Regions from separate parts of the Homo sapiens genome. Here all the other regions are reported to be linked to region 1. Evidence: microRNA targets listed by miRTarBase, many of them from high-throughput screens and not tested one by one. Region 1 holds a microRNA gene; each other region holds the end of a gene's coding sequence. Distances are between the middles of the regions.

Evidence for each region. The annotated mature microRNA hsa-miR-6867-5p reads UGUGUGUGUAGAGGAAGAAGGGA and lies in region 1 at 2,596-2,618, shown strand. An mRNA with a match to its seed (bases 2 to 7 or 8) in the 3' UTR can be bound and repressed. Matches are read on the target gene's strand: a 7mer-m8 pairs with bases 2 to 8, a 7mer-A1 pairs with bases 2 to 7 and ends in A, and an 8mer does both.
Region 2: the mRNA of CPPED1 is a reported target of hsa-miR-6867-5p. Seed matches in the 3' UTR shown: 8mer at 1,593-1,600, 8mer at 1,591-1,598, 8mer at 1,589-1,596 and 8mer at 1,587-1,594.
Region 3: the mRNA of CISD3 is a reported target of hsa-miR-6867-5p. Seed matches in the 3' UTR shown: 7mer-m8 at 1,895-1,901, 8mer at 2,383-2,390, 8mer at 2,385-2,392, 7mer-A1 at 2,851-2,857, 8mer at 2,852-2,859 and 8mer at 2,854-2,861.
Region 4: miRTarBase lists TREML2 as a target of hsa-miR-6867-5p. Seed matches in the 3' UTR shown: 7mer-A1 at 2,240-2,246, 8mer at 2,241-2,248, 8mer at 2,243-2,250, 8mer at 2,245-2,252, 8mer at 2,247-2,254, 8mer at 2,249-2,256 and 20 more.
Region 5: the mRNA of BCAS1 is a reported target of hsa-miR-6867-5p. Seed matches in the 3' UTR shown: 7mer-m8 at 2,783-2,789.
Region 6: miRTarBase lists TMEM130 as a target of hsa-miR-6867-5p. Seed matches in the 3' UTR shown: 7mer-A1 at 3,122-3,128, 7mer-m8 at 3,121-3,127, 8mer at 3,113-3,120, 8mer at 3,111-3,118, 8mer at 3,109-3,116, 8mer at 3,107-3,114 and 12 more.
Region 7: the mRNA of RASAL2 is a reported target of hsa-miR-6867-5p. The part of its 3' UTR that is shown has no 7-base or 8-base seed match.

The regions. Positions count from the first base shown.
Region 1 is chr17:40,191,007-40,195,429 of GRCh38, forward strand. It overlaps MIR6867 (microRNA 6867), which reads left to right and starts at 2,591; the gene lies at 2,591-2,657. RAPGEFL1 (Rap guanine nucleotide exchange factor like 1) reads left to right here. Exons shown (of 15, transcript NM_016339.6): 9 at 310-488; 10 at 576-666; 11 at 1,207-1,257; 12 at 1,600-1,687; 13 at 1,920-1,984; 14 at 2,357-2,411; 15 at 2,658-4,423. The coding sequence ends at 2,782. RefSeq lists a silencer at 476-535 and enhancers at 656-735, 3,437-3,937, 3,562-3,611.
Region 2 is chr16:12,661,461-12,665,883 of GRCh38, forward strand. CPPED1 (calcineurin like phosphoesterase domain containing 1) reads right to left here. Exons shown (of 4, transcript NM_018340.3): 4 at 1-3,655. The coding sequence ends at 3,426. Among named protein-coding and RNA genes, the nearest start is that of SNX29-AS3, 53 kb to the left of the region's middle.
Region 3 is chr17:38,732,134-38,736,290 of GRCh38, forward strand. CISD3 (CDGSH iron sulfur domain 3) reads left to right here. Exons shown (of 4, transcript NM_001136498.2): 4 at 1,143-3,472. The coding sequence ends at 1,322. It overlaps PCGF2 (polycomb group ring finger 2), which reads right to left. Exons shown (of 11, transcript NM_007144.3): 10 at 3,957-4,037; 11 at 1,765-3,467. The coding sequence ends at 3,090. Among named protein-coding and RNA genes, the nearest start is that of CISD3, 3.9 kb to the left of the region's middle. RefSeq lists an enhancer at 2,790-3,317.
Region 4 is chr6:41,189,039-41,193,461 of GRCh38, reverse strand. It overlaps TREML2 (triggering receptor expressed on myeloid cells like 2), which reads left to right. Exons shown (of 5, transcript NM_024807.4): 4 at 561-661; 5 at 956-3,713. The coding sequence ends at 1,035. Among named protein-coding and RNA genes, the nearest start is that of TREML2, 9.9 kb to the left of the region's middle. RefSeq lists enhancers at 1,924-1,993, 1,612-2,119.
Region 5 is chr20:53,941,670-53,946,092 of GRCh38, forward strand. BCAS1 (brain enriched myelin associated protein 1) reads right to left here. Exons shown (of 13, transcript NM_001366298.2): 13 at 1,872-3,327. The coding sequence ends at 3,253. It overlaps BCAS1-AS1 (BCAS1 antisense RNA 1), which reads left to right. Exons shown (of 5, transcript NR_199019.1): 5 at 506-1,912. Among named protein-coding and RNA genes, the nearest start is that of BCAS1-AS1, 28 kb to the left of the region's middle.
Region 6 is chr7:98,844,423-98,848,845 of GRCh38, forward strand. It overlaps TMEM130 (transmembrane protein 130), which reads right to left. Exons shown (of 8, transcript NM_152913.3): 7 at 4,161-4,273; 8 at 2,068-3,786. The coding sequence ends at 3,634. Among named protein-coding and RNA genes, the nearest start is that of TMEM130, 23 kb to the right of the region's middle. RefSeq lists an enhancer at 3,094-4,293.
Region 7 is chr1:178,471,992-178,476,414 of GRCh38, reverse strand. It overlaps RASAL2 (RAS protein activator like 2), which reads right to left. Exons shown (of 18, transcript NM_170692.4): 18 at 1-3,340. The coding sequence ends at 3,176. Among named protein-coding and RNA genes, the nearest start is that of CLEC20A, 23 kb to the left of the region's middle.

The sequences.
Region 1 (4,423 bases):
TATTCACTATTAAAGAAATAAAATAAGGCAGAGACAATAATGCCTAGCAGATGGTTGTCTTGAGGATGTCAGCCGTGAGCGAATGCCTGGCACCTAGTAAGTGCTCAGTAGCTGGTGAAATATTATTAATGCTGGTTGTTTTCTTTTTCCGCATCTTTGCCGCCTCCTGTCCTTTCTATTTTTCTATTTTCCACCCCTTCCGCCCCCGCCCTCCTGCCTTTCGCTCCTCATCGCCTTGCACTGCCATCTTCCCACCCACTCCCCTCACCCCCTGGCGCCCTGGCCGCCCCTCCGCTGCCGTGGGTGCAGCTGGAGTTCGTGGACTACGTGTTCCACGGGGAGCGCGGCCGCCGGGAGACGGCCAACTTGGAGCTGCTGCTGCAGCGCTGCAGCGAGGTCACGCACTGGGTGGCCACCGAAGTGCTGCTCTGCGAGGCCCCGGGCAAGCGCGCGCAGCTGCTCAAGAAGTTCATCAAGATCGCGGCCCTGTGAGTGCGGCCGTCGGCGGGATGGGGGGCCGGAGGCCGGAGGCCCGCGCCGCCGCCCGCCCCTGACCCCGCCTCCCACCCCCGCAGCTGCAAGCAGAACCAGGACCTGCTGTCTTTCTACGCCGTGGTCATGGGGCTGGACAACGCCGCTGTCAGCCGCCTTCGACTCACCTGGGAGGTGATGAGACCCCTCCCGTTCCTACCTGGGAATCTGGGCATCCCGGGCTCCCCGAAGTGCGTCCTCCCGGGACGGCCGCCGGCCTGGAGGGAGTCTTTGCGCCAGTTGGAGGGAGGCGCCCTCTTCTGGCATACGCAACCCCAGGGCGCACAGCTTGGCTAATGGACCCTGTCTTTGTGCAAATTAGTGAAAAGCCCGGATCCCGCCTGAGTCACGGCAGGCAGCCCTTGGCCAGGTCAGGTCGCAGACTTGGCTGTGGGAGTTGGGCTGATTTTCATCCACACTCAGTGGGGGCATCTTTATACAAAGCACCTGCATAAGACAGACCTGGCCTTCCCCAGAATAATGAATTCCTCTGGGCTGTTTCAAGCCTCTAGACTTAGCCAAGGCCTGACTTCATTTCCCCACCCACCAGCTTCCCAGCCCCCTACAAGCCATGCAGGCCCTTTTGCCCTCCAACAGGGAGAATTAATCCGAGGCTCCCATGTAACCCAAGGAGCTCCACTCTGATATCCCTTCTCCTTCCTTCAAACTCTGCAGAAGCTGCCAGGGAAATTCAAGAACTTGTTTCGCAAATTTGAGAACCTGACGGTGAGTGGGTTTGGCTCTTTCTTCTGCTCTTGGACTGAGAGCCCAGAAACCCTCTGTTCCCATAAACCCCCTTCCTCAAGCTTTCCTTTCAAGGTGTTTAGTGTATGGGACCCCCCACCCTCCTTACCATGCTGGAGGGTGAGGTTGGAAGGATTGCGCCCCTGTTTTTCTTGAAGGAAAGGGGGAGTAGTCAGGTCCCTCCCCACCACACCATTAGAAAGCCCCCAGCACCCCTATCTGATCAGGAATGTATACAAGGCAGGGGGTGAGGGAGGAAGCTGAGGACATCTTTGGGATGCATTGGCCAGTCTGTCCCTTGATCTCTCTCCTGTGGAATACTAGGACCCCTGCAGGAACCACAAAAGCTACCGAGAAGTGATCTCCAAAATGAAGCCCCCTGTGATTCCCTTCGTGCCTCTGATCCTCAAAGGTGAGAGAGTTACTCCCAAGCTGTGCCGCTTCCACCCATGCTTCCCTTCTCCTATGCCCTGCTTCTGACTTCCAGCTCCCTCTCGACTCAGCCCTGAGTACCCACCTGGAGAGGAGCCCCCCACCACAGACGGAGTGGGTTCTGGGGAAGAGCGGGGTCCTCGGGTGCAGTGGCCCCTTTCGAACTCCTCTCTTATCCTTTCCTCACATTGGATTCTCTCCACATCCCCTAGACCTGACTTTCCTGCACGAAGGGAGTAAGACCCTTGTAGATGGTTTGGTGAACATCGAGAAGCTGGTGAGTGAGTGGCACTGCAAACCCCTAGTCCCACAAGTGGGGGGCTTGCATCCTCTCCCTCTCTCATCACCTCCCAAAAATAGCAGCCTTCCTCCAAGTGCCCAGCTTGCCTAACAGACTCTTGACTGTCTCCCTGGTGGCATCACTGTGGCAACCCACCCACAGGTGGCAGAGCTGACAGGCAGCTTGGGGGCAACTTCACCTCCCCCTCACATGGCACTCTGTTACACCCACTCCTTTGGTCCTTCAGAGACCCTCCAGAATTGGAGACTGGAGGGAGTAAAGCAGAGTGGGAGAATGGCGGAGGGGGAGCATAAGAGGGGGAGCCTCTTTCTGTGCCCCTTTCAAGGCTCATTCCTTGTCATCTCCCAGCATTCAGTGGCCGAAAAAGTGAGGACAATCCGCAAATACCGGAGCCGGCCCCTTTGTGAGTACCCAGGGTACTGAGAGCAGTACAGATAGAGCTTTGACTGAACGGGAGGGTTCAGGGGAGAACTCCCTGTCCAGATGTGTATTTCCATACACTTGCTGGTTCCCCATTCTCTCCTTGCCTCTGCAGAGGCCTTCCTGCCCAACATCTGTCTCAGTCCACAGCCTGATCTTCTGCCCGGTGTGTGTGTAGAGGAAGAAGGGAAGCTGGGAACCTGACTGCCTCTCCCTCTTTACCCACTAGGCCTGGACATGGAGGCATCCCCCAATCACCTGCAGACCAAGGCCTATGTGCGCCAGTTTCAGGTCATCGACAACCAGAACCTCCTCTTCGAGCTCTCCTACAAGCTGGAGGCAAACAGTCAGTGAGAGTGGAGGCTCCAGTCAGACCCGCCAGATCCTTGGGCACCTGGCACTCAAGCACTTTGCACGATGTCTCAACCAACATCTGACATCTTTCCCGTGGAGCAACTTCCTGCTCCACGGGAAAGAGGTCGATGGATTTACCCCTGGACCCATAAGTCTGTTCATCCTGCTGAAGTCCCCTCCCCATTGCTCCTTCAAGCCAAAACTACACTTTGCTGGTTCCTGTCCCCTCTGAGAAAGGGGATAGAAAGCTCCTTCCTCTATGTCCTCCCATCGAGATCTGTTCTGGGGATGGAGCTTCCAACTTCCTCTTGCAGCAGGAAAGAATGCTGCTCACCCTTCTGTCTTGCAGAGTGGGATTGTGGGAGGGATTGGCAGCCTTCTTCTCCACCACCTGTCCAGCTTCTTCCTGGTCAGGGCTGGGACCCCCAGGAATATTATGTTGCCGTGTGTGTGTGTGTGTGTGTGTGTGTGTGTGTGTGTGTGTGTGTGTGTGTGTGTGTGTCTTCTTTTAGGGAGCAGGAGTGCATCTGGTAATTGAGGGTGGATGTTGTGTGTGCTGGGGAGGGGTCCTTCTGTTTGGTGCTACCCTTGTCTACTCTGCCCCTGGATGGTGCGGGGTGCTTTCTCCACCCCCACACTCCCTGCTCAGCTCCTCGTGCTGCCCTGCATGCCCAGGCTTGTGAGCCAAGCTGCTTTTTGGGGCAGGGAGTAGCAGCAGGTGGGAGGGGTTACCCATCAGCCCTTGCAAGTCCCCCACTCAGGCCTCTGGAAGGTCCAGGGATGGGCTCTGATGAGAGGGTAAAAGATGCTCAGGGAAACACAGGCCTCAGCTGCCTAGAGGACCCTCCCCCTGCCTTGCAGTGGGCTCGGGTAGAGCAGTATCAGGAGCTAGGGTTGTCTGCTGCCCACACTCCTGCTTTTTGGGATATCTAACTGCTAAGGAGGGAGTTGACATCCCCCTTCTGGCTCATGTGTCTGACACCAACAACATGGTCTCTGTCCCTCTCTCTTTGACTCTCCCTTTGTCCTCCCCATAGAGCTGGGGTGGGGTGGATCCCTATACCTGGGGCAGGCAGCCCCAAAGTGGGGGAGGGGGATGGCAGAGACTGTAAAGGCGCCACTGGACTCTGGCAAGGCCTTTATTACCTTTACTCCCCTCCCTCTCCCATCACCAGCCTCAAGGCCTGAGGGGTGCAGGGGCTCCTGGCAGCTACTGGGTGAGGTTTCCTGGCACAGACTCACCCTTCTTTCTGGCACCACCTCTTTCCCTTTTGAAGAGACAGCAACAGCCGTAGCAAAAGCAGCTGCTGCTCCTGCTATGAGGGTGTATATATTTTTTACCCAAAGCTCTGGAATTGTACATTTATTTTTTAAAACTCAAAGAGGGAAAGAGCCTTGTATCATATGTGAACATTGTATCATAGGTAATGTTGTACAGACCCTTTTATACAGTGATCTGTCTTGTTCCTGCAGCAAAAATCCTCTATGGACATAGGAGGTGCTGTGTCCCATGCCCTCTTGCCCTGACAGTGTCCCATGGGCCCCCTTCTGCTCCCTGCCCCCTCCCTGCTACTGCTGATGCACTCTCCTCTCCCTGCAGCCCCTGGCTTCCCAGCCTTCCTCCTGACCCCTTCCAACAGC
Region 2 (4,423 bases), not on the chromosome of region 1:
ATTGTAAAAAGTAAATGATCATCTCCCCAGCCCCATTCCCAAAGTCACTTGAGCCTTTGCAATCCAATTTGAGATCACTTTAAAAAACCTTCCCCCGTAACATGTCCTTGTGTTTTTGTTTTTTCCTCCAATTAAAGTGATTAATTGGAAAGGGGAGCATTAGGTGACATTCCTTGCCTTGAGACAGCTGGTGGTTTCCTACACCCTGTGGTGGTAACTCCAGACATGGAGCAGCTAGAGCTGCGGACAGTTACTGCTGCAGACAGGGCTGTGTCCCGTGACTCATTATGGTTCAGTTCGGTTTCTAAATCTCCCCCAGTAAAAATCCTCCCCCTGGAACCATCTGCTCTTTGGACAAGCTTCTGCCCCCTGAACCTGGTGCAATCAGGGTCTGGTCTAGGCTTTGCAGAGCTGGGAGGAAATCCCTGGGCCTCCAGCTAACGCTGTCCAAGGTGCTGAATACCGTACTCAGTGTGTTGCCACTGGCTGAGCTGGTGCAACCTTTCACCTCTGAGAAACGTTTTCCAAGACAGGACAGTGTTATGGAGCATGGACTCAAGCCTTGGGCCATCTACATCCGTTCTTTCTCCACCAAGATGAGTTAGGCGACCTTGGCCACGTGACCCCCACCTTTCTGAGCCAAAGCACTTAAAACACATAATAAACATTCAAAACCATAGCACTTAGAATCAGGAAGTCCTTTTATCGTTTTTCACAGTATAAGGCACTTATTTTTTGATATCATTCTCTTTTTTTAAAGGCAAAGGAATTACAAGTGAACACACTAGTCATGGCCCATCAGAATGATAGATGCTTATCTACAAAAACATTTCCTGACTTCTTGCTGAACCTCTTGCCTCTGGGAAATACTGCTGTTTGCTTACTTAAAAAGTGGTGAGAAATTAATATGATTCTCTCTTCCCTTTTAAAAAATTAAATTTGTATAAATATAAGGCGTACAAGTGCAGTTTTGTTACACGGATATATTGCGAAGTGGTGAAGTCCAGGCTTTTCCTGCAACCAACACCAGAAAAGTGTACACTGTACCCATCAGGTACTTTCTCATCCCTTACCCTCCTCCCACCCTTCTGAGTCTCCAATGTTTGTTCCACACTCTATGTTCATGGGTACACTTTATGTAGCTCCCATTTATGAGTGAGAACATGAAGTATTCGACTTTCTACTTCTAAGTTATTTCACTTAAGATAACAGCCTCCAGTTCCATCCAGGTTGCTGCAAAAGACATGGTTTCATTCTTTTTAGTGGCTGAATAGTATTCCATTATGTATACATACCACATGTTCTTTATCCAATCATCTGTTGATGTGATTCCCTTTTCTTTGCATATTCTTGGGGTACTTTTGAATCAGTTCTTTTAAGTTTTTGGGGAAGGAGATTTGGTTTCATTTTCATTACTTTCAATTATCTCCATTATCCTTCTGCAAACCCATGTGCCACAATTCAGAGCATTGTGCATACGTAAGAACAGAGTGAGAGCTCCTTTTCATTTCCCCCTGGAGGAACCCCCATCCTGGAATCGAAGCCCTCTGTTTATGATCCAAGTGTCACCACATCTCAAGTCTCAATGTGTGTGTGTGTGGTTTTTTTTTTTTTTTTTTGAGACAGAGTCTTGCTCTGTTGCCCAGGCTGGAGTGCAGTGGCATGATCTTGGCTCACTGCAACCTCTGCCTCCTGAGTTCCAGCGATCTCCTGCCTCAGCCTCCCGAGTAGCTGGGATTACAGGTGTGCACCAGCATGCCTGGCTAATTTTTGTATTTTTAGTAGAGATGGAGTTTCACCATGTTGGCCAGGCTGTTCTCAAACTCCTGATCTCAGGTGATCTGCCCGTCTCAGCCTCCCAAAGTGCTGGGATTACAGGCGTAAGCCACTGTGCCTGGCCCAATGTGTGGTTGTTATTAGCTATGCCCTTTACCGAACTCCTTTTCTTGACCTCCTATACCTACACCTGTTGTAAAGAAACAAATACAAAACAGGATTTCAGCAAAACACTAAAAGAAGAGCGTTCTAGTTTTTTAAAAAATTTAATTTTCTTGTGGCACATAACAATGAACTCTGGTGTCACCAGCCTATTGTATAATTAACTTCTCGTCTTTTGTTCCTTATGAATTTACATATTTAATTATCTTTCCATTTAATTTCCCATGGTTTTGCTACGTTGACTAAACTCTGTAATGAGAAAGTCTTTTAATTTAATAGACTTTGCAGGTCATGTGTAACCAGCTTTGGAAATCATTTTAGGATTACTGAGTGCTGTTTCATAATGCTGTATATTTTTCCTGCCAGGATTTGGAGTACCTAGGTTATTTGTCCACCAGAACAATGGCTGTAAAGGAGAAAATTGAGCAGTGGTCAGAAGCTGCTGAGAAGATGCGGTAAAACAGGTTACATAAAAAACAATGCTGGTTTGAAATAACCTATGCGCTTTTGTCAAGGGATTTTGCATTAGTGCATTTAGTCCAAGTCAGGGCCAATTCAGAGGATGTGGCTGAAGGCACCGTTTTGGCCTTTTTTGTTTCTTTTGAGAGCTCTGCATACATTCCCACTTTTCCTGTCAAAGTGGACAAAATGAAGAGTCTCATGAGTGGAGGGGCATTCTGATCCCAAGAGACCACCCATCTGTGGAGTGGCTACACAGCCAGAATGTGGATGTGAACCAACTCAACGTGCTCCCCAGAGACTGAAGAAGCGGCGTTTTAGAGCTTTGGTTTCAGTCTCTTGGAGGAGATTTTCAGAAATGGCCAATTTATGTGCAAAGGTGACTTTTCTAGGCACCCAGGAAGGCAAATTTAAGCTCCGAGCTGTATCAACTGCATTCTGTTCCTATCATCAGAAGTCTCAGAATTGAACAGTAAATGGTGCCTACTTGGCTCCTTGTCAAAATAAGTCTGCATGGCTCTCACAACAAGGGAGACAGCTGTTCGTTCCGCTGGAAAGGAAAGGAGATGAACTTTGTTTTGCCTAGCGTTTTGGGAATCGTGACCACAATTTAATACAATCAGGTGTAGTTTGTTTAAGGAATTATCAAAGATCATACTTGGCTGTCAGATTGGAATTGAGGTCGATAGGCAGACTTTGACCATATGCTAACCAGAATACAATCCAATTCAAAAGTGGAGTTGAGAAACACAGCATTAGGAGAATTTATTCAAACATCCATGCAGAGATAGTCTAATATTTTAAAAACTGATTTCCAGGATCATTCGCTCCATTTTAAAGGAAATGCAGTTCTATTTTGAATATAATTCAGGACAGGGCCCCAGCTCTCTGATTTATGCAAAAGGACATAAATTCACAAACCTGCCTGGGCTATTTTTATATTTCAGCAAGAGGTTGTGTGCAGCTGCTGTTTCTGGCAAAATAAAAAAATAGTGCAAGTGAAAAGTGAACGGGAACGGGAAGGAGCGTCATTTTTTCTTGATCAAATCCATGAGATCGTCTTCTATTCCTTTCTCACTCAGCTCATCTAGACTGTAGTATCGGTGAACAATTTTCTCGGCGGTGACCACCACGACTCGGAGCCCGTGGGGGTCTCTGCCCAGCTGGCATCCAATGGCAGATGACACCACCATGTCGAGGTTCTGGTAGGTACCCCCGGCATTCCTGTGGTAGTGGCCTGAGAACACGACTTTGACACCTGCAGAGAAGGGAAAAAGTCATTAGGGGGCCGAGGACTTCCATTAGGTAACCTAGGGTCTCCAGCATTTTATTCTGTGAACAGTAATATATTAAATATATTATTATACCATCATGTAGAATTATCATATTAAATGTATAATATTATTCTGTATATAATCAACAAATAGAAAGCGTATGTGATGTCCAGAATCTTTGAAAGGATACTTCATATATATAATATATTATTAACATGTTTGTCATAACTTGTACAAAGACGTACTAGGGAAGAAAATGAGAGAAGGAAGATGAAGTGAATGACTTTGAGAAAAGACAAAGGAGACTGAAGAAAACAGCCTGAGTCCTATAGAAATATCCAGATGACAAAAGTTATGTATTTTAAAAATAACATTTATGGCCAGGGATGGTGGCTCATGCCTGTAATCCCAGCACTTTGGGAGGCCAAGATGGGTGGATCACTTGAGGTCAGGAGTTCGAGACCAGCCTGGCCAACATGATGAAACTCTGTCTCTACCAAAAATATAAAAAAAAATGACCAGGTGTGGTGGCTCACGCCTGTAATCACAGCACTTTGGGAGGCCAAGGTGGGTGGATCACAAGGTCAGGAGTTTGAGACCAGCGTGGCCAATATGGTGAAATCTCATACTAAAAAATACAAAAATTGGCTAGGCGTGGTGGCAGGTGCCTGCAGTCCCAGCTACCTGGGAGGCTGAGACAGGAGAATCACGTGAACTCGGGAGGTGGAGGTTGCAGTGAGCCAAGATCATGC
Region 3 (4,157 bases), 1.5 Mb from region 1:
CCATATTGTTTGCCTCCCTGGCCCCTTTCCTTCCTGAGCAGAGCTCTGACTGGTATTCCTTCAAGCTATGTGGCATGGTGTCAGCAGCCCAGGGTCCTTGAGTCCCACTTAGGTCCATGCACCTCAAGCCCTCTAAGACAAGTTGCTGGTTTCTATTTGCACGCTTCTCTCATCTCCTTTCCATCCCACCCTAACTCCAATGTCAAGAGGCCTTGGTTCAGCCAGGCGAGGTGGCTCACCTGTAATCCCAGCACTTTGCGAGGCCAAGGCAGGAGGCTCTTTTGAGTCCAGGAGTTCAAGAACAGTCTGGGCAACAAAGTTGAGACCCCGCTTCTACAAATGCCTCTACCCCCACCAAAGACTAGCATGGAGGCAGGCCTGTGTTCCCAGCCATACTGGAGGCTGAGGAAGGAGGACCGCTTGACCCCAGGAGGTTGAGGCTACAGTGAGCCGTGTTTGCATCACTGCACTCCAGCCTGGGCAACAGAGTGAGACCCTGTCAAAAAAAAAGGCCTTGGCACCAGCTCTGCCTTCAGCTAGCAAGGCATGTCACCTTTCTGGGCCTGTTTCCATTACCCAGTCTCTGCTTGAGCGGCTTCTGGGATGGGGAGTACACTTCTGTGCCAGCCAGCCAGTTTGCTATGGGGCATCCCCTCCTCCTTGTAACCTTCACTCCCTGTCACGTGCCCAGTTATTCCCTGGAGCCAAACAAAATTGCTACCACAGTGTACTCTCCAGCCCAAAGAAGTTTTAACCCAGGAACATGGGAAGTAAATGAATTTCATGATCCAGTGGAGACTCAGAGACACACACACACACACACACACACACACACTCACACTCTATTAGTGTCCTGGCCCTCTGGGTGTCCCAGAGACTAATGCTATAAAGACTCTGTAAATACTTACCAGACACTTACTATAGGCAAAGTGCATCACGATCATATTTTATTTCCTCATACAACTCTACTCTTATCACCCCCACATTACAGATAAGAGAGGTCACTCAGTGAGCCTTGGCAGTCTTGCTCTGGAGCCTGTACCCTAACCACTGTGCTCCACTCCCCCTGAGCTCCTGCAGCCTGCCCTGCCCTGCCCCAGCAGGTGGGGTCAGGTCTTTGACTCCTGTCTTTCCCCCACCAGCCCTTCTGTGACGGCTCCCACTTCTTCCAACGCACTGGCCTATCTCCACTCAAGTTCAAGGCCCAAGAGACCCGCATGGTGGCACTCTGTACCTGCAAGGCCACTCAGAGGCCCCCGTACTGCGATGGCACCCACAGGAGTGAGCGCGTGCAGAAGGCAGAAGTGGGCTCCCCACTCTGAGGGGGCTGCTGCTGTCCAGCCACAGGTGGCCTTGGCTCCAGGCCTCTGACAGGCACCCCCTTCTGTGGGAAAGGAAACAGGTGCTGAGCCCAAGAGACTCTGGTACCCACTGCTGGCTCATGAAGGAAGAATTATTCCTTATAACCTAAAAGTCTCCAGTCTGGGGCAGGCGGGAGTGGGCCCTGGTTCAATGTTTGCTGATGGGGAAGATGGCAAAAACAAGCCTGCCCAACCAGACTGGTAGTCCTGCAGTCACTGCTATGAGGCCCACGTGCTGCCTCCTGCTCCAGATTTTAACCTCTCTGTGGGCTGGGGGCACCTGACCAGCCACAGGAGAGGGCAGTTCAGATTCATTCTGTATGGGGTCCCCAAGCCAGGCTAAACCCAGAGATGAGAGGCACCCTTCCCTTCTTCCCTCCACCCCAAAGAACTACAGGCTCCAGAAAGTATGCAGCATTTATTACAAAGCCAAGAGATACAGATGTCCCAGGGCAAAGGAGGGTACAGTCACAGGACCTCAGACACAGGACAAGGTGCAAACACAGACAAGCCCATCAGGGGGCTCCCAACCCCACACACCTACGCTATGATGGAATCTCGAGTCTCGACTCCCGACTCCTCTCAGATCTATGCACACTTGAGGAAATCTCGGTGGGCAGCGACCTGCCAGGGTCTGTCCCTAAGGAGGTGGTCCGCTGACCTCTCAAGGGGTGGGGGTGGGGTCAGAGCTTACAGGTTTCTGTCTTCTTGTGCTTTTAGATGCAGTTGCTCTGTCCTGACCAGGTGACCGGGCCTCAGCTGGGGGTGGAGGGGCAATTGGAAGGCTGTTTGCCTCTGGCAAAGTCTGGGATCTGTGCTTGTGTGAGGTTAACCCACCCCCACTTCCACTCTAGGCCCCAGGTGAGACTCCACCACCAGTCCTGCTAGTGAGGGTTCCCCGGTGAGGGTAAGGTTGGTGGGGGTGCAGCGCTTCACAATGCTAAAGCCTTAGCCCTCCTCCAAGAGCTGAGACCTCTCAGGGCCTGAATCTTCTTTTCCACAAGATAAATGATGCAAAGGCCACACACACAGGAAAAAAAAAAAAAGAGGCAGAACTATCTATTCTTTGCACAAAGTTTCCACTGCAAGAGGAGGAGGTGATGCAGGTGCCACCTCCACCCTGCACTTGCTCCTCAGAACCAGGGATAAACTGCATTTGTAAAAGGCACTGTTCTTAGCAATTTCTGGACATTCAACAACGTGGGGGGCGGCCACTGGTCAGAGGCAGGACAGCAGCCAAGATGGGGAGAGAAACGGGGAGAGAAAGAAACGATTCTAACTGACTCCTATATGCAGCCAGTTGGAATCATGCCTAAAGCTTTGGGTCTGAAGGGGCCCCCAACACACCACCTGCCTTGGGAAACAGCGAGGATGGTGCAGAGCTTTATTGAGACTCCAGTGGCCCATCCAGTTCATCTCCAGGCACCCCCAAAAACAGCAAATTACACAAGACCCCCCCCAAAAAAAATGAACACCATTTTCCACACATACACACACACATAAAGTTTGTTTCCTGTGGCATTTAAATTAATCTGGTTGGTCCATAGAAAATAAGTATGTATATTTGGTTTTTCCTATGTACATATATATATATATTTATTTATAAAACCCGCCCCCCACCCCCAAGGTGGGAAGAGCTGGGGAAAGTAGAAGAGGTGGAAAAAAGGGCCCAGAAAAAGTGGAAGGAGTGGAGAGGCTTGGCTGGAAGAAGGGAGAGGGTCCCTGGCCTCAAGTTAAGGGGGGCACGGGAGCGCCGTTGACAGTCATCTTGCGCCCCCTGCTGGTGGAGGATGGTGTCTGCAGGCAGTTCAAGCTACCCCCGTTGGCAGCTGTGGTGGCCCCACTGGCTGTCGAAGGGGGAGTGGGGGAGGTAGGGTGGGTGGCTGGAGGCCCATGGGAACTGGGAGAGCCATGGGATGGGGTGGCTGGGCTGGGCAGGGAGGAGGAGGTGGCTGGCAGGGTGGCAGGGCTGGGAGCCTTGTCGCTGACTGACTCACACTCGGACGCCCCGCTGGTGTTGGTGCCCTCGGAGGGGGTGGGCACCGTGGCTAGGGTGAGCCGCTTGCAGGCTGGCTGGACACGGTACTTGAGGGGGAGAGGCCCGTTCTGCGGGGAGAGTGGGGAGGAGAGACACAGGGAAGGGGAAGGTATCAGGAGACAGAGTCCAACTAAAGGGCCACCATCTCCACCCCACAGTGTCCAAACTCGAAAAAAGGGATGGGATGGGGCCTTGGAGAGGAGAGAGACAAGGATACAGGGTGCATGAAGACCCAGAGAGGGAAAAGGTCTAAGAGCAGAGACTCCGTCAGAGAGGAGACGGGAGAGAGGGAGGCAAACACACGGCAGCTGCCAGCACCTATTTCTGCCCCCAAATCTGGGGACACCGTCTGCCCAGGGAGCCTTGTCTCCTGAGCGGAAAGTCATCCGCAAGAGATGGCCCAGAGGCTGACCTGCTGTAGCAAGCCACCCTGGACATGCAGCTCATGGGATAAGGGACAGACTGTCTCTGATTACAGAAGGGTGGCCCATGTGGCCACAGACCTATGCCAGACCCTGTGGGAGTCTGCTCCCTGCCCGCCCCACTCGCTGGCTCACCCGCCGCCAGGGGTAGATGTAGGCGATGTCCATGAGGGTGTAGTATTCCTTCAGTGGCTCGTCCTCGTACAGAACCTCCACCTGGGGGAGGGAAGCGGAGGACACCATGACCCTGGCCAGCTCGGGGCTCCAGGCTGGGAATGTGGGGGACTGGGAGGCGGGGCAATGGGAAGGGTGGATTTACAGATGGTCCCTTATTTC
Region 4 (4,423 bases), not on the chromosome of region 1:
AAGGGCAAAGGAGCCCGCATAGTTACACACCAACTCCAATTGGTTATCAGTAGAGGGCTGCCTGCTGTGTGTGGCATAGAGGGCTCTAGTGACAAGAGAAAGGCCTCAGCCTCCCACCCACAGAAAAGGAGGTGCTGATGATGTGTGCAGGTGGAAATGACACAGGCAAGAGGACACAGGCAGGGGCCCGACAGCATCTGCTACAGAGGATAGAGTGGGGGAACAGGCATCCTCAGACCCCTTGAGGAGAGCAAGCATCTTGATCTCTTTAGCCACAAATGGGAGTCTCCTAGAATCCTCATCCTCACTGATGAACAGATTTGGGGGCATAATGGAGGAGAGGTACCAAAGTAGAGAGATGTTCCCCTCTACCTGGGGACGTCCTCCTCTTAACTCCGGATGTCACACTTGCTTCTGTGGCCGGGTCTGTAAGGAAGAGGGTGGCCGTCTACCCCGGGAAGGGCACGCTCTCAGGGTTTCTGCTGCTGGTCCGATCCCAACGTGGGTTAGGATGGGGGACCTTGGTGCTCACCCGCTTCCACCCTGTCCCTTCTTCTCAGGCACCAGGATGTTTACTCCACTGTGCTTGGGGTGGTGCTGACCCTCCTGGTGCTGATGCTGATCATGGTCTATGGGTTTTGGAAGAAGAGACACATGGCAAGTGAGTAGAGCCCACCTCCCAGCCTCCTGAGGGCAGAGCTCTGGGTAACTGCACTAAGGGTTATGACCTCGAGTCCCCACGTGGTATGGCCCTTGGCCTGTGTCCAGTCAAAAGGACTATGACGCTTCCACCTGGGGAGGAGGGCGGCCAGGCGGAGACCACCCAGCACAACCCTAAGGGGATGACCTGGAAGGAACCAGAGGCAGAGCCAGAAAGGGGCTGGGGCTGGTGGAGGAGCATCGGGGCACCGTGGGCAGGGCAGGACACTTCCTCAGCTCTCCCTGTTTCTTGCAGGCTACAGCATGTGCAGCGATCCTTCTACACGTGACCCACCTGGAAGACCAGAGCCCTATGTGGAAGTCTACTTGATCTGAGGCCACTTAAGCATGGGGTGGGGAGCTTCTCCCAGAGTGGCCCCAGGGGGTTAGAGGAGGGGTGAAGATTGGGGCCAGTATCGATCTTATGAAGCTGGAGGACTTGTGCAGTGCTGGACTCACCCAGGACTTCCCAAACCCAGAGGCTGCCATCCTAAGCAGCCCCACAGCCCAGTGTTCTCCTTGGGGGCAGGAACCTGGGGAGGGGCCCAGAGCAAAGGGCATCAGGGAGAAAGTCCCGAGGAAATGTGACCAGTGGTTTCTGCTCGGAGCTGCAGACCCCAGGGCTCTTGGTGGAGGCAGGGGAACCCTGAGAGTGCTGTTTACAGAGAACCTCAGCTCCCGTCTGCCTCAGAAACCCTATTGGGCTGAGCTGCCCTCCCCACCAGGGCCACTGTGTCCTCTGCTTCCCTCCGTTCTGCTTCAGCTTCCCCTAAGGTTAGGGAAGAAAGAATCGGGCTCACGAATGCCAGAGGCAGTGATGTCCCATCCTGGAGGAGAGGAAACAGTGACTAAAAGCTGGGGACCCACAGAGGGGTTGGCAGCTTCTCTTGTCGGGACAGGTGTCCTTTGCTGGGCCTCTGGATGGCCCTGCCCTGACTGGGGCTGCTCCTCCCTCCTGTCCTGGGACCGCGCAGAGCCCACGCTCTCACTGCTGCCTCCTGCTGGCCGCTGCCTCCTTAGAAAGCTGTGACCAGGCAGCTAAGAGCCTCTGGGCTGCAGGGTCAGCCTCTCCCAAGACTGAAGTGCAGAGGCTGGACTTGGGGCTCTCTCCCCCAGCTTCTACACCTGGGCTCCAAGTCTGAGTTCCCACAGGGGACCCAGCAGCCTCCAGGAAGTCCATACCCTGGGGTGGCTGAGACCTTGGCTCTGTATGGAGGCTGCTCACCCCACAGACACTGGTGGGGAGACCATGGCTCAGAGGAAGGGTGGAGCAACCCTCCTCCTACCCCTCAGGATAGAGAGAGAAGACACACTTGGGACACAGTGAAGACAGTAACTTGGAACTGACCACGGCCTGGAGGACTGGCCCAGGCAGGGGGACAGGGAAAATGGAGCCCAAGTAGCCTCTGGCCAGGGACCCAATGTCCCGAGGAATCTGCCTCCCACCCACTGACTCAGGGCTCAGACTCAGCCTCTATTGTCCAGAGCACTGGCTTGGCGTCCAGCAATGAAGGCTGGAGAATGCAGCCTGGATTCCCCTACACACACACACACACACACACACACACACACACACACACACACACACACACAGGTGTCTACTGACCTGGAGTGACTGGAATAGCACCTGGGGATAAATGTGACAACTGTGCATTGAACCCTGGGTCAGGGACGTTCCAATGGCCAAGAGAGTGACACAGCCAGGACCCTGGTGGACAGCCAGAGGGGCCACTTCAGGATGGATGTGGGGAGAGTGGAAGAGGCAGGGAGTAATCCTGGGGGACAGCAGGGAGGAGGCACTTCTTCCCTATGTCCAGGAGAGGGCAATAGAGGGAAGACTGAGGCTGAAGAATTGACGGCTCTGGACCCAGGACAGACAGACAGACAGACAGACAGACAGACAGACAGACACGCACACACACCCATCTCTGTCTAGCAAGCAGCCTCCTAAGATAGCTGTTCTCCCTATCATGACGGTGTAGCCACCATCCTGTTGTATACTAGGAGAGAACTTAACCCACCTGGGGGAAAATAGCTCCCCAAGAGCTGGCACCAGTACCACTGATGGCCCTGCTTCCTCTGAGTGAGATGCCCAGGAGGAGGAGCCCTAGGGAAGAAGTCAGGGACAGGGACCAGGATACCACTCTGTCACTGTGTGACCCTCAGCAAGTCACTAACCCTTGGCCTCATTTTTCCTGTCTTGTGAAAGAGGACAATAATTCCTACTTCTCAAGATTGTTTTCAAGATAAAATAACATTAGCATTGTACAATGATGCAAATGCCTCATTACCATTATTCCTTAAGTTGTTTTCCAGCTCTAATGTTGTTTCCAACATTACATTTAAGACCTTAGGATTCTGTTTCTTGCTTTTGTCATATCTCTTCCCAAGTGTCATCACTATATGGATGTTGAGGGCCCCCGATGACAGTCCCTTTGGTAAGGTCCTCTTTTGAGGAGGGGAGGGTACAGGGTGGACTCATCTCAGTGTGAACTTGGCAAGTCACTGTCCCTCTCTGATCTTGTTTCCTCATCTGGAGAAGGAGTGAGAGAGGAGAAAGGAAGAAACCAGTCAGGCAGGCAGTTAGGGTGGGTTCTCGGTAGAATTCTTTTAAACAAAAGAACAGCCTGAAAAATCAAGCTGCAGGCACAGATATGGGAACTTGCACAGGGGGGCTTGCCTAAGACATGCCCACAGCCTCATAGATAAGACAGACTACACAGGTGACTTGCCCAAACATGCCTGCAATGGAAAATTTCATCCCCTGACATGTGCAGTAAGGGGAACAAAGCAATATGGAGTAAGTAACTCAAGCCAAGGGCCCACATGTACATTAGAAGGACAGCAGGGAGCTACCAGAAATTCATGCCTTATGCAGATGAGCTGCCCAGTCCTCATCGGTTTCTTATAAAAGCCTTTACATTCAACTGTAAAAATGGCAACCCTCTTTCAGGCCTCCTCTCCACAGCAGAGAGCTTTCTTCTCTCACTCATTAAACTTTCACTCCAACCTCATCCTTGGTGTCCACGCTCCTTAATTTTCATTGTTGTGAGACAAAGAACTCCAGTGATACCTCAAACAATGAGAGACTGCTACATTGTGGTGCACTGGTGAGACTGTAACAGGAGGGTGGAGAGGAGCTCTGAAGCCTCTTCTGACTTCCTTGGGTATGTGTGTCAGAGGTGTTTAAACCAGATGGACTCCATCTTGTATAGAGGCTGAGTAAAATAAGGCTGAGACCTACCGGGTTGCCTTCCCAGATGTTAGGCATTCTAAGTCACAGGGTGAGATAGGTTGACACAAGATACAGGTCATAAAGACCTTGCTGATAAAACAGGTTTGCAGTAAAGAAATCAGCTAAAACCCACCAAAACCAAGATGGCAATGAGAGTGACCTCTGGCTGTCCTCACTGCACATTATATGCAAATTATAATGCATTAGCATGATAAGAGACACTCCCACCAGCACCATGTCAGCTTACAAATGCCATGGCAACATCAGGAAGTTACCTTATATGGTCTGAAAAGAGGAGGAACCCTCAGCTCCAGGAATTGCCCACCCCTTTCCTGGAAAACTCATGAATAATCCACCCCTTGTTTAGCATATAATCAAGAAGTAACAATAAATATAAGCAGCTAAGCAGCCCATGTTGCTGCTCTGCCTATAGAGTAGCCATTCTTTATTCCTTTACTTTTTAAATAAACTTGCTTTCATTTTACCATA
Region 5 (4,423 bases), not on the chromosome of region 1:
GTCTGATGGCATTTCTGGGAATCTGTGTCCTAAAGGCTTTCTTGGGTTTATTGGTGAGTTTCAGCTCTTTTTCACTCTAGTTCTGCATAAGGGGTGGGCATTAGTATTTATTGTAAATGCATTGGAAATGGGATCTCAACAACAATAACACACACACACACACACAAACACAAAAATGGAGTATTAACTTGTTTCTTAAGCCATAACTGAATTTAGAGTTCTCCCAGTAAGTCATGCGCTTTACTTCTCTCTGGCATTTCTTGCTTTTTTAAAAAAAAGCAATTTCATTAAAAGACTATTCTCTTTTTTGGCCCAGGAGCATAGGAAACCAGTTATAAAAACTGTTGGCATGCTTTGCAGAGAGATTCTCAGCAAAGAGGCTTTTTTTTTGTTTTATTTTGTTTTGTTTTGTTTGAGTGGGGGCTTGGGAGGGCTCCATCTGCCTTAGTAACTGGCTAAGTAACTGGCCTGGGCTACTCAGTCTGTTTCTCTTCCTCCTGCCTAGGGGCATTTCTTATCTGGGCAAAAAGCCCCTGTACCCAGCGAGGTGAAACTTGCAAATGATACTGTCACCTTCCTCAATGGACTGCAGCTCAGGAGCTCACCAAAGGTTGCAGCAGACAACCCCCACGGTGTTTGGAGACAAAGGAATAGCAGCTGCCTGGTTTCCTTGAATCACCCCGTGCTCTGACGATGGCAGTGATGGGCCTCCCACCAATGGCTTCCCCAAGTGCTGTTTTCCTGCTTCATGCCAAGTTAAGCATTCTGATACTAAGCGGCACGAGATAGTTCTCAACTGGGTGAGGCACAGGTGTGAGTAATCTCGAGGTATGGTCAGGAGGTTTGAAAAAACTAACCCAGCTGCAAGGAAAAGACCTCTGGTCTTTATTGGAAACACGAATTTGACCTGTCCAAGCTGGGAGCTAATAGGCCCCAGCAGCTCAGGATCCCCTCCTCACTTACGCTTGGGTTTTGAGTGATACCATATTTTTCTGAACACATTTTCCAAATGCCTATTTGCCAAAGCCGTGGTGTAATTTGCCTAAGCAGCAAACTTGTCCTTAGAGTCGAGGTCCATCCACATCAGGAGAGTATATTCAATGTTTATCTCCGATCAATGTGTGATGAATTGCATATGAGATAGATTTGTGTGAGCCAATGTGTGTGTGTGGATCTGTGTTAGTTACATGTGTTTATTTGCATGTATGTAAATATGACTGTGTGAGTGCATGGATCTATTCCTGCATGATATATATTTATATATATGAATATGTGCATATATATGCAAATATGGGTATAAATATGTATCTGAACATATAGGTGTGTATCTGTAGTGGACACTGTCAATGCACTCATCCTCCAGTTACTTAGGCATCCCAGCTTCTCAGCTCAATGGGGGCCGCTTGCCCATCCCCCCACCTCCCAGGGCAGCCCAGAATTCACCTACCAGGGTTCAAAGGCTGGCTCCCTTGACTCAAGGTCAAACTATCTGGGTGGTGCAATTCATGCTCCAGTTGAAACCAACCCTTGCCCAACTCTTTTCTTGCCCTCTTCTTTTTCTCTTACTCCCTTTCCCTCGGAGCCCACTCTCAGTATATCCTATGCGTCCAAATCCCCATCTCAGGCTCTGCTCCAAGCAACCTGGCCTAAGACAGCACTATTCTATACATGCATGTGTGTGTACATGCAAACATACAACTGCACACATTTGTGTGTGTGTGTGCCCATATACAAGGAAATCCGGGAAGATCTGGGAGAGAATGATCTTCCAAAGAAGATAATGGAGAAAGAGTATGGATTTTATAATGTAGAAGTTAGAGTCATCTCAGATATAGAGTGGGACTGCTTTGAAGTTGAAAATTAAAAGATACTTTAGAAGTAAATGTATTTTTTATTAAATCAGAAAAAGAAAGATACAGTTTACATGACTGTCAGTCAATCATATGCTACTTTGAATTACATTTTAATAGACTCAGGGTCCTATTTACTCCTTTGTACAGGTATTAAAAACAACTCAGGTATTTGAGAAGTCTTCTGTAAATTTTTATTAACTGAGGTTATGGGGAGGGTTTTATCAGAGCACATCCTGAGAACATTAGGAATGACAGACACACTTGAGATAAGTGTCAGACGGAACAGATGAAGCGAGCCCCTCAGCCATCTGAGAAACATTAATAATGTAAGATAGCAGAGACCAAATCTTTGTTAGGGATACAGTATTACAGGATAAAAATGGGGACCTTGCCGCCCCCTTGTGTTGCAAAATAACCGTGCAACTTCCTTTATTTTTTATTTATTTTTTTTTTTTAAGTTGTAATCTTTGCCGTTGTCACTGAGCCTCAAAAGCAATTGTTTTCCCAAATCATTTTAAGCCCTCCCCAGTCAATCTTTTCCCTCTCATCAATAACTTACAAGGACCCTATTTGAAAAACAACGCTTATTCATTCCTTTTTCTATACCCCACACATTCCGTTCTAGGAAATTGGCAACCACCCAACACAGCCCGGGTTCTCCCTCCTTGAGATGTGAATTTAAACAAATGGATTTTCGTCTCCCTTCTTCAAGCTTAGAGGATAAGCACGCATTTACTACAACGCTTAATTCCTTCTAGCAGCATTTCTCTTCTATAACTTACTTGCCACTGCCTTTTTTTTTTTTTGATAGAATCTTGCTCTGTCGCCCAGGGTGGAGTGCAATGGTGCAACTTCGGCTCACTGCAACCTCCACCTCCTGGGTACAAGCGGTTCTCGTGCGTTGGGCTCCCGAGTAGCTGGGACTACAGGTGTGTGCCACCATGCCTGGCTAATTTTTGTATTTTTAGTAGAGACGGGGTTTCATGATGTTGGCCAGGCTAGTCTTGAACTCCTGACCTCAGGTGATCCACCTGCCTCGGCCTCCCAAAGTGCTGAGATTACAGGCGAGAGCCACCACGCCCGGCCACCACTGCCATTTTCATCACTTAACCCGAACACATTCCTCTATTCCCTCCCTTTCCTGCTTGGTGATCATCGACTCTTCTGACCCAACTAGGTGACCTGCTAAACCATCTTTACTGTTATTTGCCAGAAAAGACTGGACCAGAGACGTAAATAATACACCTCAATATACAACAGCTCGGGCTTAATTTCTAGGCAGAATTTCATTTGCTGGCCATCAGAAGAATATATACATGGAGCGTGTTTGGGGAGGAGATGGAGTAAGGAGAACACATCTTGGTGGCAGGAGAACCTGGTGGGAACCGTGCTGATTTGTTTACTTGGATTTGCCAACTGGTCCGATGGATACTGGGTCTGTTTGCACTTGAGCATCCAACATCCGCTTTGGTCCCTGGAGAAAAACAGAAAGACGTGGCAGCCTATTGAAGCTCTGTAATGTCAACAGCAACAATGGCCATTTATGTAGCACTTACTCTGTGCTAGGTGTTGGGCTAAATTAATATATCTCATTCCTCAGTGCTGGGTAAGAGAATGGTCTCCAGTCAGATGCCCGGGTTCGATACCCAGTTACATGACTTTCTAGCTTTGTGAAATCTTGGACAAATTACTTATCATCTCTTTGCGCTTTGGTTTCTTTATCTTTAAAATGGAAATGACAAACTTATCTCAGAGGGTTGTTCCCAAGATAAAGTGAGTTCATGCTTATAATGTACTTAGTACCTAGGGGGTACTAATTCTACCTCACTTTAGCTCCCTCCCCAGTTACCATCTAGGTTCACCACCCTGTTTTATTTTCTTCTTTTTTTTTTATTATACTTTTAAGTTCTAGGGTACATGTGAGCAATGTGCAGGTTTGTTACATATGTATACATGTGCCATGTTGGTGTGCTGCACCCATTAACTCGTCATGTAACATTAGATATATCTCCTAATGCTATCCTTCCCCCAACCCCCCATCCCAAACCCTATTTTATTCTCTCTCAGAACATACCACTCTCTGAAATGATCTTATTATCTAATTTATTTGTCTAACATCTGTCTTCTACACCAGATTGGAAGCTGCAAGGATTCTGCGTGTCTCAGTGCCTTGCAGGTTCCTAGCACATGGTACCTAGCCTTAACATTGACTGAATGTGGGTGAAGGAATGTTGTCAGGCAGATACAATTATTTTATTTTATTTTTTTGAGACAAAGTCTTACTCTGTTGCCTAGGCTGAAGTACAGTGGTGGGACTATGTTCACTGTAGCCTTGAAGTCCTGGGCTCAAATGATCCCCCCACGTCAGCCTCCCCAGTAGCTTGGACTACAGGTGCACACCACCAAACTCAGCTAATTTTAAAATTTTTTTTGTAGAGACGGGGTCTCAATTTGTTGTCCAGGATGGTCTTGAACTGCTGGGCTCATGTGATCCTTCTACCTTGGCCTCCCAAAGTGATGGAGTTACAGGTGTAAGCCACTATGCCTAGCCTGAGTACTATTATTATTAT
Region 6 (4,423 bases), not on the chromosome of region 1:
TTGCAGTGAGCCAAGATCGCACCACTGCACTCCAGCCTGGGCGACAGAGCAAGACTCCATCTCAAAAAAATAAATAAATAAATAAATAGTATGTTAGAAGGTGACATATGCCATGAGTATAAGGGCAGGTAGGAGAGGAGAGTGCCAAGTTGACCTCACAGATGAAGGTGATGTTTGAACAGCCGTGAAGGAGCAGAGAGGGAACCCCACACGTGTCCAGGAAACAGCATCCTGCCCGGCAAAGGGAACAACTCGGGAAAGACCCAGCCAGACAAGCAGCAGGGGCTGGGGGTGACAAGGTCACAGGCCAGGTTGGACAGGGATTTGGGAGGCCACCAGAAGGATTTGGGGTTTGCTCTGAGAAGGGAGACACTGAAGGGTTTGGGGCAGAGGAAGATGTGGTCTTGGAGCAGTTTTGTGGACAAACTTCTGGCTCAGTGAGGGGTGAGCAGGAGCTGCCAGGCATTATGAGAGCCCTGCCAGGGACCAGGGTGGTGGCAGCAGGGGAGGAGGGAGCAGCGGTCAGATTCTGGATCTCAGTTGAAGGATTTCTCACAGGATGGATATGAAATGTGAGAGACGGAGCTGCCGAAAATGACGTGGGGAAGTCTGTTTCCTGGGGCTGCCGAAACAAAGTACCACGAACTAGGTGGCTTAAAACAACAGCAACGGGACCAGGCGCGGTGGTTCACACCTGTAATCCCAGCACTTTGGGAGGCCGAGGCGGGTGGATCATGCGAGGTCAGGAGTTCAAGACCAGCCTTGCCAACATGGTGAAACCCCATCTCTACTAAAAATACAAAAATTAGCCGGGTGGGGTGGTGGGTGTCTGTAGTCTCAACTACTCAGGAGGCTGAGGCAGGAGAATCGCTTGAACCCGGGAGGCAGAGATTGTAGACAGCCGAGATCGTGCCACTGCACTCCAGCCTTGGAGCAAGACTCTGTCTCAACAAAACAAAACAAAAAACTCAGGGCTGGGTGCGGTGGCTCACGCCTGTAACCCCAACATTTTGGGAGGCCAAGGCAGGAGGATAACTTGAGCTCAGGAGTTTGAGACCAGCCTGGGCAAGATAGTGGAGCCTCATCTCTACAAAAAATAAGCAGAAAATTAGCCATGGATGGTGGCATGCACCTATAGTCCCAGCTACTCAGGAGGCTGAGGTGGGAGAATCACTTGAGCCCAGGAGGTCGAGGCTGCAGTGAGCTATGATCGTGCCACTGCACTCCAGCCTGGATGACAGAGAGACTCTGTCTAAAAGAAATAATAAGTAAATAAAAATAAATAAGGCCAGGTGTGGTGGCTCACACCTGTAATCCCAGCACTTTGGGAGGCCGAGGAGGGCAGATCACAAGGTCAGGAGATCAAGACCATCCTGGCCAAAGATGGTGAAACCCCATCTCTACTAAACATACAAAAATTAGCCGGGCATGGTGGCACGTGCTTGTAATCCCCGCTACTTGAGAGGCTGAGGCAGGAGAATTGCTTGAACTAGGGAGTCAGAGGTTGCAGTGAGCCGAGATCACGCCACCGCACTCCAGCCTGGCGACAGAGTGAGACTCCATCTCAAAATAAATTAATAAAAAGAAATAAAAGAAACGCAGAATCCCAGGCCCCACTCCAGACCTCCAAAATGAAAATTCTTGTTTACCAAGATCTCTAGCAATTCTCATGAACCTCAAAGTTTAAGAAGCCTGCTAGAGACTAGTGGTTCTCATACCTGATATGCACCAGAATCGCAGAGGGCTTGTGAAAACAGGTGGCTGCCCCCCTACCCAGGCACTGCTTCAGGTATCAGGTCGAGCCCAAGGGTCTGCATTTCCAACACGTCCCCAGGTGTGGTCCACGTTCCTCCTCTGGCTCTAGAATCCCCCTGAGGTCTCAGACAGGGATGCATGTCCAAGTCACCTGGGGACAGCTCTCCCCACCTCCAGGGACCTGAACTGGCTCCCTTCAGTTGTCTTCACCACAGAGGACAAGTGGGATGTCCTGCTGCGTCACAGCACTGCCGTTGCTGTCTGCAAGGCAAAAACGTCCATGCACAAAAGAGAGACTCTGGCCACACCGTCTATGCTTGGCTATATTCAGAGCACACAAGCTTTATTTAGCAACAATGGCAGTATTTCATGAGAATGAGCTGCACAATAGTGTAAATGCCATTTTCTGCACACAGCCTGGGAGCAGATGGTTACAGCGACAGAGCCCAGACCCCACAGTCCTCCCCTGCCCTTCCTGACAGGCTCCGGCTACTTCTGGCCTCATTATTGTCTCAGCCACAGCCCAGGTCGCTGGGCCAGAAGGGAGGGTGCAGGCTGGTTCCGCTGCTCAGGCTCTGTCATCCTGCTTCTTCCTTCTCAAGGCCACCTCGGGAGCAGCTGGCAGGCAAGAATGCCCCCCTCACACACAGGGAACCCAAGTCCCTGCTGACTCAACCTCTTCTTTTTTTTTTTTTGGAGACAGAGTCTCGCTCTGTCACTCAGGCTGGAGTGCAGTGGCGCCATCTGGGCTCACTGCAAGCTCCGCCTCCCGGGTTCGCACCATTCTCCTGCCTCAGCCTCCCGAGTAGCTGGGACTACAGGCACCCACCACCACGCCCGGCTAACTTTTTGTATTTTTTTAGTAGAGACGGGGTTTCACCGTGTTAGCCAGGGTGGTCTCGATCTCCTGATCTCGTGATCCACCCGCCTCGGCCTCCCAAAGTGCTGGGATTACAGGCGTGAGCCACCGCGCCCGGCCTTGACTCAACCTCTTCTACCGCTGCAAGGCCTTTTCCTCAGTGAAAGTTTCACAGATGGGTTTCGATAAAATAAGGTGATATTTATAAAGCACTCTGCAATCACTCAGTATTAGTCCTGCCCCCCATCCAGCCCCCTGCCAGCCAGCAGGGACTAGGATGGCCTTATAAAGGGCGCAAGAACTGCAGAGACAAAGCACAAAGGGAGGGCCCGGGCCCAGAACCTGTCAGGGCTGCTTGGAGGTCAAATTTCCTTTCAGCTCTAGTGCAGGGTGCATCCCAGCAACCGACTTAACCAGATACAGAGCTGATCATCTGAAATGCCCATGTGACGCATGTGTTTATATTTCTGTGTGTGTGTGTGTGTGTGTGTGTGTGTGTGTGTGTGGTGTGTGTACATGCACACTTCTCTCTGTGAGTGTGCCCATCTATGTGTACAACCTTTAGTTATGGATTTTTAACCCTTTATGACCTTCTTTCTAGCTCTCTGGCACAGGTAGGGCTGTCTGGGGGAGGAAACTGAGAACCCCCAATGGACAGCAGATGTGCCAATATGAGAGGAATGGGCAGTGGGCAGCCAGGCCCACCTGGGAGTCAACACGGAACACCCCAAGCATCAAAGTCCTGCACGAAGCCTCTTCAAAGGTAGGGGGTCAAGGGGGTGGTAACCGAGTGGGGCTTATGTCAGTGGCTGGACTGTACAGATGGGTGAATGGCTGGGGTCAGGGGTGACAGAGAGGGAGGGGCTTGTGGCAGTGGCTGAACTGTACAGATGGATGGATGATCCAGGCCAACAGCCCCACGCAAATGAACCCCTCCTGGTCAGTGGTGCACACCACCCTGCTGGAAACTCCAAGTCAGCAGTCAGTTAACACTGAGATGGGGTGGGGAGGGGGAGTGCTCACACGGTGTAAGTTTTGACAGACTTATAGAGGGGCGGGAGCAGCCCGTGGTTCTCACGAACAATTTCCAGGTACTCAGATGGAGTCTCCAGCAAGAAAGGCCCACAGCACATCTGGCAGCAGCACCTGACCCCAGAGGGTGGCTCCGGGTTCTTGTCAGACATGGGGGAAAAGTCAAAATCAGCCACCTATGATGAACAAAATCCCACGGGTCAATCACCCACCCACCAGGAGCCCCATCAGGTGGCCTTATGAGCTCAGCTGCCTGGTGGCAGAGTGCACAGAAACACCTTTCTGGCACCACACAGATGCAAGAGATGGATATAGGAGATAAATCAGATGGGACACCAACTTAGCAATTTTTCCTGGTCTACAGATGCCTCTTGGGCACATCACCCCAAGTCCCGGAGCCTCGCTGTAATATCAAGACCCCCTCCAGGCATCCTGGCCTGGCCCCCATACCCTCTCTAAACATCCTCTCTAGGCAAGGCCCAGTAGTCCAGCCCCCACCCCACTGAGTACCCACCTCCACCATGTCCTTTTGCTGAGTGGCATTCCGCAGGGTCATGTACATGATGAAGGCCAACATCACAGTGATAAGTGTAGCACATGGGAAAGCAAAGACAGCCGGCTGGATTCCTGGGAATGAAAGAAGTAACATTACAGGACTGGGTAGCTGGTACTACAGTGCTGGTTCTCAGGAAGCAAGCACAACAAAGGAGGGAATGGTCAAGCCCCACCAGTGATTTTTTTTACCCTCATGTACATGCATCCCAACTGGGCAACCCC
Region 7 (4,423 bases), not on the chromosome of region 1:
CTCCCCTCTGACATGGCTTTTGCTGCAGAGACTCAGGGAATATGATGACCTGATGGAAATGTGACTCTTTTTGCTGCTTCAGCTCAGATTGCTTATTGCTTCAGTAATATAAAAGGGGAATATGAAGCTCTTTTCTGACTCCTACCAACACTGTCCTCATTAATGGTCAAGTCTGTTGTCAGCTAGACATGCACTTTACAAGCACTTCACCTGAATTCCAAATTCCACTCAACCCTGATCTATCCTGCGCCCCACAATGTGGTGTTGTTTTGAGGGAAACAGGAAGTGCAAGACATTGCTATCTTAATCTATTTGCCTCTCTTCAGCCATGTACCTCCTCCCAGCAAACAAAGTTATTTACCTACTTGAACTGAGGGAAAGCCAATTAAGAAACATCTCCATAAAAATTATCACCTGTTGGTGGCTTCTCTTCTTAAAAAATCCTTCAGAGTAACTTATACAGATTGCAGCATTCTCTAAAGAAATACTGAGAAAAAAGGTTGGACAGGAGTAGGCTCACAGGATAACTTAACATTTAACATCTATCAGCAACTCTGAACTTTTAGCTTATTGGTAATGCTCTATTATTATTATTTTTTACTATTTCTTCTTCATTCAAGATAACCTGGTAGTAGAAGGCTGCATAATCTGTCCAAATGTTTTGGGCATTAAATCTTTCAGTGAAGACAGCCCTCTAAGGAGCTCCCATAATGCTAATAAGATACACTCTATCCATCAAAAGCACATTTGATTTTTTGGGGCTTCTCTCAATTCCCAATATAAGTAATTTTATCAGCCCTCTGTAATCCATAATCGGCACTTAAGAGCTTCCAAACCTCAATGGCAAGACATCACCCACATTACATACTTATGGCCAATGAAACTGACAATTCTCTTACCAGGTTTTCTGTGGCACAATTGAAGGCTTTTACAAAGAATGAATTAAACATGGCTTGAGCTGAGAATAGCCAGAAACAAGAACAAATCTATGCTTACATCCCTCCTCCTTCAACAAAGGACACTACACTTTGGAACAGTTACCTCTTTTTCCTAATAAAATAAGTGATTTTGACCACAGTGTGCCCTCCGCTTGGAGAGAAGGTGTAAGAATTTGCAAACCAAAACCAAAGGTGAAGAAAACGTAAAAGTGCCAAAACAGCTGGATATAAAGTGTGCAGATCAGATAAACACAGTGAGAAACTCCCATTTTAGATCTGTCTGGCAGAAACAGGGATTGCTATGAAAGAAACTGTTTTAAAAGGTTGTGGGTTATGTGGCCATGGTGAGGTTGCTGAAACGTAAGGTCCAACACAAAGATCCACCTGAGAGAGGGCAGAGCTCAAGAGGCTGGAATGCAAGCCTGGGACTTGGTGAAAAGGAGGGCTTGGTGTCTGTCGGCATCACTCAAAAGAGGGCACTATACATGTTCTCTTATAAATATTCTGTTATGGAGAAACACTCACTTGATGCATATGGCTCCCTCAGGTCCTTTTTTTTCCATCCCCTTTTTCTAGAAAAAAAATTCTTTAAAGCTTATAATTTAAAATCAACATCAACTTATTCGAGAAACATTGTTGCTTTCTCAATATAAAACAACTACTTAGATCTTGCTTAAAGAGGTTTGAGACCCTTTTAACATTATATCTGAACAGCATAGAAGGCATGAACTTTTCCTATTTGTGCAGTTATATGTACATATGTGTGAATATATATTATATATATATTTGTATATATAATGTCTGTTTAACATGTAACCTTCCATACTTCTGGTAATCAAGGTTGCATTCAAGATGACATTGCACACCTCTGGAAAAAAGGAAATGAATTCGTTTCCATGACTTTTTCTGTTCTATAATAATAAGGCTATGGATGACAAGTGTTGAAATTGGGTCATTATTGTCAGATCTACGAGCATTGGAATAATAACTGGAATGTGCCATCCTGACACTTTCCATTATTTTCTTTTTCTTTTAAGAGAGTGATGCTTCAAATTTGGATTTCCTTTCTTTATTGAGGGGATAAGGGGAAGAAGTACTTTAAAAGTTAAAGATGGAGATAAAATTACCCCCCATAGATTTGCTAGTACAATGGATAGAGTCTTTATCCCAAACAAAAATTATAACAACACATAGAAAAAATTTTTAATAGGAAATATTCAGAGATTCCAGCTGTGGTATGGTTAGCCCTTTTCTGTATGGAAGAAAGGGTGTTGATCTGGATGGCTTATGGACAGCTATTTAAATAACCTCTCCAGGGGAGAGTAAACCCTGTTGGTGATGACAGCTCCCACTATGGGGAGGAAAGCACAGTGAATGTGTGAAGATGAAGATGGTATGTGGAGACACAAATATTTATAGTTTTGTAAACTCTAAAGAGGAAAAAGAACACCCTTTATTACAATTGGGGTTAAAAACAAAAAGCCCCTGTCTAAAAGAGAAGACTCCCATCTGCTGTAGACAGAGGAAATAAACATATTGACAGGAGTTCAATAGAAATTACTCCTAAAGTCCAGTTTTGATGCAACAGCTTTTGTCTGTGTCCTCTGAAACAGTGAATCCCCAAATCAGATTAGCTGTCCAACCAGAACCAGTCTTGGTTGATCAGTGGAATAAATTATTGTTTTGTATGGATCTTGGTATTTGCATGTTTTCTGAAAGGACAAGAGGGCCAGAGTGGGGTTTTTAAACTAGTAGATGAATCCCTGAAAAATTCCTTCTCACAATGTCCTATTGCACTCCATGTGCTTCTATCAGATAGATGCTTGGTCTCTACCTACTGAACCTACAGGCTCATGTCTCGCTCACACAACAGTTCCTACTTTACTTCCTGTAACAACTGCAGTGCTTTCAACAAGAGGAAAACAATAATAAAAATAGCAATAATCAAAAAGGTAATCTACATTATTAACTTCCTTTTGGTATATTACAGTGATATTTTCTGTACATGGCCCAGAACTAAGTTCCCTATGTACATAGAGATGTGGGGGAAAAGCATTGACCTTGGAAGTCGCCGCCTTATGCCCTGAAAGACAAGGTTCCTTTCTTCATTCAGGAGTTTCTCACCACATCGCCATTGTGAAGTAGCAACATTCTGTAAACCTGGAGGGGCTAGGTAAAGGTCTGGAGATAGGAGAGTGGGTCAATTTCCTTCTGTCTCCTTCCACAGACAAAGCCCGTCAGCAGCTGCTGTTTTTGAATTCACCATTCTCCGTGATGGAAAGCTTGGTGGGGTTGGTGGGGGAGATGCCATTGCGGACCTGCATGCTGTACCGCTCCTTCACTTGGGTCAGCGCGCTCATCAGTCTGGTGTTGGCTGAATCCAGGGACACGATCCGTTTTTCCTACAACACACCAATCATGGCTTTATTCAGGCTACAGGCAGGAGGTAACACGCTTTCTTTACTGAATGACTAGTCCAGTGCTTTCTCTCAAACAGTTGTATGCATGGTGCTTCCCAGACAAATGGAACGTCTCTGCCTCTTTCTGCACACTGGTCAGGTTCAGCTTCCCCTGAGCCCAGTGGATCTGTGTTTATTTTTTTCTCTCTCTCTTTTTCTTTCAGCATAGCAGGACTTTTTATTAACAATCTCTTGGGACATTAGACTGTCATGTAAAAGTGATACCATGTGTTACCTCAGACTATGCAACACAGGTATCAAGCTGCCTTATTATACTAAGTGCTTTAGGTCAAAATTGAAACATGGAAATTAGGTGGCAAAGAAAGAAGCACCAGAGGTTTCATTTCACAGAGGAGAAGAGCATGTGATCTATGGGTTCTTAGCCCCAAAAGAGGGCATATCAGTCACATTTGGAAGGAATTCACATTGTGCTCAAAATTAAAACAATACATGGTGGCAGTGTAGAGTCACCAACAAGGTGAGGTTGCAACAGCAAGAGGGGAAAAAAGCAGCCAAAAAGCTCAGACCAAGGAGTTACTTGAATATGGGGAGGGAGATGTGCCGAAAAGGGAATGCCATCAACATAACACATGAGAACAAACAGAGAACACAGGCTCCTAGACCCATTCCAGCTCAAAGTTACTCCAGGAGGGCTGCCCAATACGGAGATTGCTTTCATTTTACTTTTGAGTCTCTGAAAAAAAATGCTTTAGAAACAATATTTGGAAACCAAGCATTGGTGAATACACACACACAAAAACCAAGGGGGAAGAAAAGAGGAAAAAAAATAGGCAGTCTAACTAAAGGAAAGTAGGACTATCTAAAATTTTTTTAATAAAATCATTTTATCAAAACATTATCAGTCTCCTAAGGATTAGGTTAGAAGAGATACCCTAATCTTAGCTTCAGCAGCTCAGTAAATCATTCTAGAACCTTTCTAACATGAAGTCTATAGTTTTCAGAAAACAACGCAGGAAACAGTCTTTACCTATGCCTGTAAAATTAAAAAGAAAATAACACATAGGG